Linked DNA regions of Homo sapiens: regions 1 and 3 are each reported to be linked to region 2. Evidence: microRNA targets listed by miRTarBase, many of them from high-throughput screens and not tested one by one. Region 2 holds a microRNA gene; each other region holds the end of a gene's coding sequence.

The links. The annotated mature microRNA hsa-miR-1238-3p reads CUUCCUCGUCUGUCUGCCCC and lies in region 2 at 1,055-1,074, shown strand. An mRNA with a match to its seed (bases 2 to 7 or 8) in the 3' UTR can be bound and repressed. Matches are read on the target gene's strand: a 7mer-m8 pairs with bases 2 to 8, a 7mer-A1 pairs with bases 2 to 7 and ends in A, and an 8mer does both.
Region 1: the mRNA of TFIP11 is a reported target of hsa-miR-1238-3p. Seed matches in the 3' UTR shown: 7mer-A1 at 1,894-1,900.
Region 3: the mRNA of BUD23 is a reported target of hsa-miR-1238-3p. Seed matches in the 3' UTR shown: 7mer-A1 at 2,535-2,541.

What each region holds. Positions count from the first base shown.
Region 1 is chr22:26,489,597-26,492,596 of GRCh38, forward strand. It overlaps TFIP11 (tuftelin interacting protein 11), which reads right to left. Exons shown (of 15, transcript NM_012143.4): 15 at 1,644-2,772. The coding sequence ends at 2,417. It overlaps SRRD (SRR1 domain containing), which reads left to right. Exons shown (of 7, transcript NM_001013694.3): 5 at 448-602; 6 at 1,429-1,474; 7 at 1,867-3,000. The coding sequence ends at 2,076. Among named protein-coding and RNA genes, the nearest start is that of SRRD, 7.2 kb to the left of the region's middle.
Region 2 is chr19:10,551,129-10,554,471 of GRCh38, forward strand. It overlaps MIR1238 (microRNA 1238), which reads left to right and starts at 994; the gene lies at 994-1,076. ATG4D (autophagy related 4D cysteine peptidase) reads left to right here. Exons shown (of 10, transcript NM_032885.6): 7 at 769-847; 8 at 917-993; 9 at 1,077-1,196; 10 at 1,757-2,290. The coding sequence ends at 1,939. It overlaps KRI1 (KRI1 homolog), which reads right to left. Exons shown (of 19, transcript NM_023008.5): 19 at 1,957-3,153. The coding sequence ends at 2,823. RefSeq lists enhancers at 2,952-3,121, 3,142-3,191, 3,222-3,301.
Region 3 is chr7:73,697,340-73,700,674 of GRCh38, reverse strand. It overlaps BUD23 (BUD23 rRNA methyltransferase and ribosome maturation factor), which reads right to left. Exons shown (of 12, transcript NM_017528.5): 11 at 2,981-3,070; 12 at 2,463-2,843. The coding sequence ends at 2,789. STX1A (syntaxin 1A) reads left to right here. Exons shown (of 10, transcript NM_004603.4): 10 at 191-1,465. The coding sequence ends at 268. Among named protein-coding and RNA genes, the nearest start is that of MIR4284, 12 kb to the left of the region's middle. RefSeq lists an enhancer at 799-1,300.

The sequences.
Region 1 (3,000 bases), not on the chromosome of region 2:
AGAGAGCAGTGGTTCTCAGGAGGGGTGATTGTGCCTCAGGGACATTGGAAGAGGACTTAGTTATGCAGATCTGCAGGAAGTGACATAGGAAGTGTGGATTACTGAACACAGGGGAAATACATGGGGTAAGTAACATCACTATCCCTCCTGTTCTTGCCGTCATAGACCCAGGAAGCCCCTCCATCAGTGCAGGGCTTTGTGTTCATGAGAACACAATGTGTACATTTGTTAAGTAAACATGAGTTCTTTCGGGACATCATGATTTCCTGACTCTTTAGTCCTGTAACTATAGATTTCATATACGAGTGTAACTGTTCCACAAAATGAGCTTTTTTCCTTTTGATCCTTTAGTTTGTCTCATGATTATCCCCATCCTTACCTCTCCCTCACCTTGCTGTAAAGAATAGGTTGTGGGCATGTTTACACCTGTGAATATCGTATCCCCAGGAAGGGAAACGGAGTATTCGCGGGGAGCCTACCATCTTTTACATGCTCCATTGTGGGACGGCCTTGTACAACAATCTTTTATGGAGTAACTGGTCAGTAGATGCCCTTTCTAAGATGGTCATCATTGGGAACAGTTTCAAAGGACTTGAGGAGAGGTAAGTCTGAGAATGCTGAGATTCTGTCAGGCCCTGAGGTGAAGCCCATACCTCAGATTGACCCACATGCAGAAAACATTTCCTTGACGATTCCATACTGGGGAAATGCTTTTCCACAGGGAACTGGATGAAGGCTTAAAGACAGATGTCAAATCCTGATTCGAACTATGAAGCAAGTTAAGGAGTCTTTTTGCCACGAATTCCTCCCTTCCATTATGATACACAGAAATGGTTTTGAAAACAGGGAAAAGCTATTTGATTCCTCTGCCTACAGCTCCACGTCCTCATTCTGTTTCACGTGCTTAGGAGTCTGCTCAGTCATTTCTCTTGATGAAATGGGCACAATTACTGGAATATTTGCTTTTTTTTTTTTTTTTTTTTTTGAGATGGAGTCTCACTCTGTCCCCCCGGCTGGAGTGCAGTGGTATGATCTCAGCTCACTGCAACCTCTGTCTCCTGGGTTCAAGCGATACTCCTACCTCAGCCTAATGAGTAGCTGGGATTACAGATGCACACCAGGACGCCCGGCTGATTTTTTTATTTTTAGTAGAGATGGGGTTTTACCATGTTGGCCATGCTGGTCTTGAACTCCTGACCTCAAATGATCCGCCCGCCTCAGTCTCCTGAAGTGCTGGGATTACCTGCGCCTGGCCCACATTTTCAACTATTTAACTGGTTTACTCCACATCTTGAGTTTTTTCCTGAATTCTTACTATGCTTCAATCATCTTGCCCTTCTATGTGTCTTAAAAGTTGAATGAAACTATCCTCATACCTCCTAATCATGGTGTTTTTTTTTTGTTTTTTTGGTTTTTTTTAATTTCTAGGTTGTTGGCAAGGATTCTGCAGAAAAATTATCCCTACATTGCAAAGGTATCTATCTGAATAAAGGGGCTGGGATGGAAAAGGGTGTGAAACTGTGAAGAATTCTATCTTTCTTTACAGGCGTAGGAGGAAACTCATGGGCTAAGTGGCGCTAGTGTACTGTCAGCTCTCTCCATGGGTCTGTGTTCCAGAAAGCTATGACTCTTTAATGCATCTCTTAGTTTTTTCCTTATTTCCTTTATTCTTAGTATCACAGTCCATGATATCCACTGTCCTTGGGGCGCCCAATTCATTGTGCAAAAGCATTTAAATCAAAATACCCTATTTGTTATTTTTTTAAAAAGTAAAGTGGGGATGACAAGTAAAGTGGAAATTTATCCCAGAAGAGTGGGGATTACTGTGACTATCTGAAGTTTTTATACTTGAATTTTTCTGCTCAGATTTTAAAAGGACTGGAGGAGCTTGAGTTTCCTCAGACTTCACAATACATGGACATATTTAATGATACCTCTGTCCACTGGTTCCCTGTGCAAAAGCTAGAACAGCTCTCCATAGATATTTGGGAGTTTCGGGAAGAACCAGATTATCAGGACTGTGAGGACCTTGAAATCATCAGGAACAAGAGAGAAGATCCTTCTGCTACTGACTGAACTCGTTGTGAGGTACTCAGTGTTGGCTGAGGTAGAAGCTGCCACCAGAGACTAAAGGGAAGGCTGCTATGGAGGAACTACAGAGAACTCCTTTGCCAGGAAAGAACATCAACTTGGCTGTCCTGTTTTGAGGACGATACCCCACATGAGGACTTGGTATAAAGATTCCTGCCCTACGTGGCATTGTCCCATTTTACATCCTTCCCTCATGACCTGGCCTGATGTGGAGTAGCTCCTGAGTAAAGAAGTTACCCTTTTGAAGGTGATCTAAAAATACTGTTTATTTACAGTACATCCCTCTTAGGGGCAAGTCTCTGACTGGTTCTGGACCTGCCACAGTTCACTTGGCCATGTCGATCAGGCTCTGCAGTGAGGTGGGCACCCACGTCTTCTCGCCCTGGACAAAGACCACTCCCCGGTCGATGTAGATCACAATGCGGCCAAAGGTGTAGAGCTGCTTCCCTTCGTGTCGCTTCCCAATGACGGGCATGAAGACAATGTTGTGCTCCTCAGCCTTGGTCTCAATGAGGTCCTTAAAGTTCATGGGCACAGAGCTAGCGGCCACGCCAATGCCCCTCTGAGCCATGTTCTCAGCCTCCCGCCTCTCCTGCATGGCCTCGTACTGGAAGTCCTTCCTCCGCTCCGTGTGGGTGAGATAGGCAATGTTCTCCCGTGCTCCTGGCTGCATGTAGGCACCTAAGATACAGGAGGACAGGGCGGTGAGGAGAGGTGTTTCCAGGTGTATGGAAGTTGACACTGTGGCTTGGCCCAGGTCTTGGGTGTGCCAGAGTGCTTGTGACTCACTGAAGGGCAGCTCTGCCTCAAAGATACAACTTTGGAGGAAGTTTAGACGACTGGCCAGTATCACATAAAAACTGTTCAGAAGGTTCCTGGCTAGTATCTAGTAACCAGATTATTAATATT
Region 2 (3,343 bases):
CTTTTATTCTTTTCCATATAGTTATCACCTCTAACACATGAGATAAATCATGTAATTGGCTGGGCGTGGTGGCCCACGCCTGTAATCCCAGCACTTTGGGAGGCAGGTGGATCACCTGAGGTCAGGAGTCCAAGACCAGTCTGGCCAACATGGTGAAACCTCGTCTCTACTAAAAATACAAAAATTAGCTGGGCGTGGTGGCGGGCGCCTGTAATCCCAGCTGCTCGGGAGGCTGAGGCAGGAGAACTGCTTGAACCCAGGAGATGGAGGTTTCGGTGAGCCAAGATCGTGCTACTGCACTCCAGCCTGTAATCCCAGCACTTTAGGAGGCCGAGACGGGCAGATCACCTGAGGTTAGGAGGAGTTCCAGACCAGCCTGGCTAACATGGTGAAACCCCATTTTTACTAAAAATACAAAAAATTAACCCGGGTGTGGTGGCGGGTGCCTGTAATCCCAGCTACTTGAGAAGCTGAGGCAGGAGAATCGCTTGAACTTAGGAGGCGGAGGTTGCGGTGAGCCAATTGGGCCACTGCACTCCAGGCTGGGTGACAGAGTGAGACTCCGTCTCAAAAAAAAAAAAAAAAAAAAAATTCATGTAATCATCTTCCTTGTTAGTCTCTCACACTAGGATGTCAGCTCCTGAGGGCAAGGGTTTTGTGGTCTTGATCACTGCTGCCCTCCAGAGGCTGGGTTCTCACAGAGGAGGTGTTTGCCAAGCGTTTGTTGAGTGGCTGCCTGACAGCACCTGCCTACCCTCCTCCCTGCAGGAACTCCTGCGTTGCGAGCTGTGCCTGGGCATCATGGGTGGGAAACCGCGACACTCACTGTACTTCATTGGCTACCAAGGTAGGCCCACCCCCTCCTCACTCCTCCCACCCCCCACCGCACCCCCACTCACACCTGCACCCCCTGCAGATGACTTCCTGCTGTACCTGGACCCTCACTACTGCCAGCCCACTGTGGATGTCAGCCAGGCCGACTTCCCCCTGGAGGTGAGTGGGAGCCCCAGTGTGTGGTTGGGGCCATGGCGGGTGGGCAGCCCAGCCTCTGAGCCTTCCTCGTCTGTCTGCCCCAGTCCTTCCACTGCACCTCGCCCCGCAAGATGGCCTTTGCCAAGATGGACCCAAGCTGTACCGTGGGCTTCTATGCTGGAGACAGGAAGGAGTTTGAGACACTCTGCTCAGAGCTGACCAGGGTGAGCAAGAGGAAAGCTGGAGTGGGGTGAGGGGGGCGGTTGGGCAGGGCTGGGGGTGAAAGAGGAACAGAGGCCTCGAGTCCAGCAGAGCTGGGGTGCTGCTTCCAGGCTAGGGGTCCTAACCTGGGAAATGTGAAGAATGTCCACCCCTGAAAAGGTGGGAACGCCAAAGCCCACTGTTAAGGCATCATCCCTTGGAGGCAGCTGTATCCAGGGGCTCAAGTGGTGGGAACCCTCCCTGTCTCTTGGCCCTGCTGTCCGACCAGGACTCTACCCTTATGGGGGCGAGAGATGGCCACCAGCCATTCTGGGCACCCACCCTGTGGTCACTGGAAGGGAAACGCAGGTTTTGCAGCAAAAATCCCAGGACTGTCAGTCTTTGGCTGAGCTGGGTCACATGCTCATGGCTGAGCCAATCACTGTGGCCAGGGGATGGAAGGTGCTGATTGGCTGCTCTCTCCTGGAGAGGTGGTCCTGAGAAGCACCTACTAAATAAACCTGGGCTAAGGAATATGGCTTGGCACTGTTTGTGGCTGACCCTGTCTCCCTCTTCCCGCCAGGTCCTCAGCTCCTCCTCAGCCACAGAGCGGTACCCCATGTTCACCCTGGCCGAGGGCCATGCTCAGGACCACAGCCTGGACGACCTCTGCTCCCAGCTCGCCCAGCCCACACTCCGGCTCCCTCGCACAGGGCGGCTCCTCAGGGCCAAACGCCCCAGCTCTGAGGACTTTGTGTTTTTATAAAGGGAGGGGATGAGGGGAAAGATACAACACTATTTATTTTTTTATTTATGTCATGTCGGGTGTGGGATCTTGAGCTCTGGCAGTGATGATGGTACTTCCTGTTGTCAGCCCCTCAAGCCCAGCTGCAACCAGTCTGGGGCCATTCAGCCAGGGACAGAGCCCACAGAGCCCATACACCTGTCTCCCACCAGCGGGGCCCTCCTGGCAGGGTAGGGAAGGAGGACCCCGGGCACCCCCCTCAGGGCCTGACTCACGTACTGTAGTTTGCACTGGACGCCCGGGCCCTCCCTGTCCCAAAGCCCCCTTGGGGGAACTGTGGCTGCTGGGGGCCAATAAAGCTGTGTAACTTGATCGTGGGTGTGGCTGGGCGCAGCGTTCTGAGGGGATGTGGGGTCTGGGAGGTGTCTCGAGGTGAGAGCTCCAAGTCACGGGAAGTTTAAGTCAGCCTCAGTTTCCACATCCATAAAATGGGACGACTTCCTTACCCACAGCTACACGTGTTTTTTAATTTTTTTTTTTTTTTCAAGAGACAGGGTCTTGCTTTGTTGCCCAGGCTGGAGTGCAGTGGTGCAATCATAGCTCTCTGTAGCCTCAAACTCATGGCCTTAAGTGATCTTCCTTCCCCAGCCTCCTGAGTAGCTGGGACTACAGGCATGTGTCACCACATTTTGTAGAGATGGAGTCTCGCTAAGTTGCCCACGCTGGTCTCCAATTCCTGGGCTCAAGTGATCCTTTCACCTCGGCCTCCCAAAGTGCTGGGATTACAGGCGTGCCTGGCCACAGATGAGAGGATCTCTGCAGCAGATAGTACTTGTGGGTGCGAGACCTGTCCAGGGCTTGATTTGAGGAGAGGAGCCTGAGGCCCCTGCCTGCTCCCTGGTGCTCAGGAGCTGTTCTTGGGCCCCTGTTGTTTCCTCCGCTGCCGGCCCAGCTGGCGGAAGTGCAGCCGTTTGGGGTTGAGGCCAAAGGCCTGCAGTCTCTGGCGGCTGAACTCGCATCCACCAAGCATCACAGTGGGGCCCAGCAGCCGTGCCTTCTTGGCCCTCCTCCGCTTCTGGGGGGCTGGCTTCTTGTGGGGTGATACAGGGGCTTCCTCTTCCTGTGCTGGGGGACTCTCCGGCCCCATCAAGCTGCCATCAAGGGCTGGCAGCTGCCTCTGTGGGCCGGCTTCATCTCTCTGTGGCTTCCCTGTGGCTTCCGCAGGTGTCTCTGCCCTGAGGGAGAAAAGTCAGGGCTCAGCCCAGGCCTGTCAAGATCAGGCCCATTCTTGAGCACGCATGCCCCATTTTACAGACAGGGAAAGGAGGGGCATAGTGAAGCAGCCGCACAGCGACCGAGGGCCTGCCTGGGATTCAGACCTGGGTTTCAGGCCAAAGCCAGCGCTTTTCTACGGAACCCAAAGAC
Region 3 (3,335 bases), not on the chromosome of region 2:
ACCATCCCACATCCCTCCCCATCCCACCTCTCTCCCTTCTCTCAGGAGCTCCCCATGACAGCCCCCTCCCAGGCCGTCACCTTCCCCTGCTTGGATCCCCCCCGACTGTCCAGTCCTCAGCCTTTGCCATAGTCCCACCCCACCTGCCGCCAACACTGTCTGAGGCCTCTCCTGCCCGCTTCCCATGCAGAAGAAAATCATGATCATCATCTGCTGTGTGATCCTGGGCATCGTCATCGCCTCCACTGTTGGGGGCATCTTCGCCTAGAAGCCACCCAAACTGCCACTCCACTCCAGGTGGGCCACTCCAAGGAGGCCCTGGCTGCTGCCACCTGGCTGGGCTGCCCTCCCAACCCCCGCCTCTGGCTCAGAGCACCCTCCCTCCCGGCCCCCATGCTCCCTTCTCTGCCATGGGCCCTCCGTCCCCGCCCCGTGTCGTGTGCATGATCTCTGTGAGTGTGCGTCTGTACGGGAAGAGGCAGAGGGAGGCAGCCAGCGGGGCGTGATGCAGTGTGCACAGCGAGGAGCAGACCCAGGCAGGGCCGCCAGGGTGACACAGGCCACCCTTCCTTGCCTTCAGTAACTCGGTGGGCCCAGGTTCTGCTCTTCCCTGGGGACCCTAACCTCGCCTCCAGCTGACCTGCCCTGTCCTCTCCAGCTGTCCCCACAAGCAGAGCCCTGAGGGGTGGGGACCAGCTGGCCACATGGTGCTGCTTTTCAGGTTAGGGGAGAGGTGGCCCTGAGGGACAGCCCAGCTCTGAGTCTCAGTCGCTGATCACTGCCAGGGAGGCTCAGGCTGCCATGGCTCCAGGCTCCCTCCCCTGCCTAGGGGCAAAGTCCATCGGGTCCTGGGCCTCAGCTTCCCTTCCCACATTCCTCCGGCCCCAGGAGCAACCCCTTGGGCTAGGTCTGACCCCAGGTGTCCCTCTGGAAGGGGCTGGCTGGTGCCCTATTTCCAGCCACCCCAGCAGCTAGGGAGGCAAAGCAGGCTGCAGTCAGTCCCTCAAGCCAGCGTTGCATGTTTGGGATGGTGGCTCCTGTTGTCTTGCGCTCTGGGAAGTCAGATGTCATTTCAGGCCTGCAGTCTCATCCTGCCCTTGCCATCCTCCCATCGATGTGCCACGTGGGTGTCACGTGTCCCAGATGCAGTATTCGGCAGCCAGCCGGGGAGGGCTACCTCCTCCTCCTCACCACCTTGGGGCTTCTCATGGGAAATGTGCCCCCGCCCCAGGACCCTCTCCCTTGTGGACAGGCAGGGAGATGCATGCGAGTGCATGCAGCAGGGGATGGGGCCGTGTCCGTGTGCCCCACCCTCCCTCGGCTTTACTCCTGCCCAGTGACTGTGACCACTGTCCGTGTTGCCTTCTTGAACAGCGATTCCCCCCAACCCCTTCACCAAAGGTCTTGGTACAACCAGCTGCCCATTTTGTGAAATTTTTATGTAGAATAAACATTTGTATCTGTACCAGGCCTCTGTTGTAGATTTCTTCCCCAGGTCTCCTGGGGGAAAACCTTAGGAGGGTTCTCACTATTGCCCAAGCTGGCCTCCCACCTCAGCCTCCCACAGAGCTGGGACCACAGGTTGTGCCTGGCCTGGCTGCTCTAGACTTCTTGCCATCTGCAGTGTCACAGTCTTAGAACCTGAGGATGAATGAATGTGGCACTAAGAGGAAGGGCTCAGAGGCGAGGATCCCAACTCAGCCTCAACCCCACCCTGGGCCTTCAACTTCCTCAGACCTGTCTCTGGCCGTGCAGTGGAAAACATCCAGGCCTTATTCCCTGAGAACAGGCCCAGAGGCCACTCTCAAGGCCTGGAATCTGACACCTGCAGGAAACCCCACTGCAGGGCTTAGATCCTCAGGCCCCAAGCCTCACCCCACTCCCAGACACCCAGCCCCTCGGGCCCCGGCACCCATTCCCTAATGTCTTAAGCTGCTGAACACCTAATCCAGCTCTGTACTGCAATGCCCAGGATCTTGCCCCTCTTCCCACATGGACCAAAAGGCTCAAGCAACCATTACACCTCCTCTCCTATCACAGCCAGCTGGACAGTCCCACACTACCCCAGAGCAGGACCTTCCCTTTCCAACCACTAGTGACGGGACAAGAGATCAGCCCAAGACATCCAAGCACTGGGCTGGTAGGCAGCTGACCGTGCAGCTCAGTGCCACAGTTCAAGCTGGGGCCGCTGGACTGGCAAGGCCTTCACAGGAAGGGAAAACGGACTGGCCAGCAGGCACCACGAACACATTTCATGTGGGCCCTCTTCCCAACTTTGCTTGGTGTGATTATGATACAGTTATATATAAGCCCTAAATTAAAGGACTCTGTGTTCCTTGCAAATGGAAAGAATGCTTTCATCTAAGTGTTTTAAATCTGATTCCTGCCTGGGGAGTCGAGCAGTAGCCCACCAGGAGGAACTGGAGTTTGGTGAGAATCACAGAGCTGGGAGATGCCAGAGCTCCACAAAAGGAAATTTTATTTCTTGCCTTTAAACAAAATAAGATGCTCTCAGAGCTTTTTTTTTTTTTTTTTTTCCTCCCTGGAAAGGAAGTTTCATTATGTTGCCCAGGCAGGTCTCAAACTCCTGGCCTCAAATGATCCTCCCACCTCAGCCTCCCAAGGTGCTGGGATTACAGGTGTGAGCCACCACGCCCGGCCCAGAGAACTTTTTTTTTACTGCAGAAAACATTTTTATAACTTTAGAACTTTTCTAAAATACTACTTTGTCAGCTGAACAATATAGAAAAGTGCAGAGGCAAGTGCCTTTCCAGAACCGCGTGGTGACTTAGAAGCGGGGCTTGCGCTTGCGGCCGGTGTACTGGGTGTCAGGTCTGACTTCCCTGTGCAGAAAAGGAATAGGACAGTCTCAGAAAAAAAAGATCAAAGCAGCCCTGGACCCTTCAAATAAAGGGAAGCTCTTCATGGCAATAGTCATCCACCCCCCACCCACCCTGCCAGCTCCCAGGCTGGCACTCACCTGCCCTGGCGCCTGTGCCGCTCCTTCTTCTCCAGCACCCATGCCCGACTCTTCCTCACCATTCCCCGCCTCGACATCCTTAATGGGAACCTGTGGCGGAGACACAGCTATGAGCTGATGGACAGCTGATGGATGGGGCTGCCCGACTGGCCCCCATGTGAATCCATGGCAAGCTTACCTCCGAGTCTGGTGGCCTCGGATGCCCCTTCTCTCAAATGCTCCACCTTCCCTATAACACAATTCCCCGCTCTGGACACCCTCCTTCCTGATAACATCCATCCGGGCCACAGAGGTTGTTGGGTGGGCAGAGGAGGAGAGAGCTGGGCCGGGCATGGAGACCTAAACACCAGCGAGC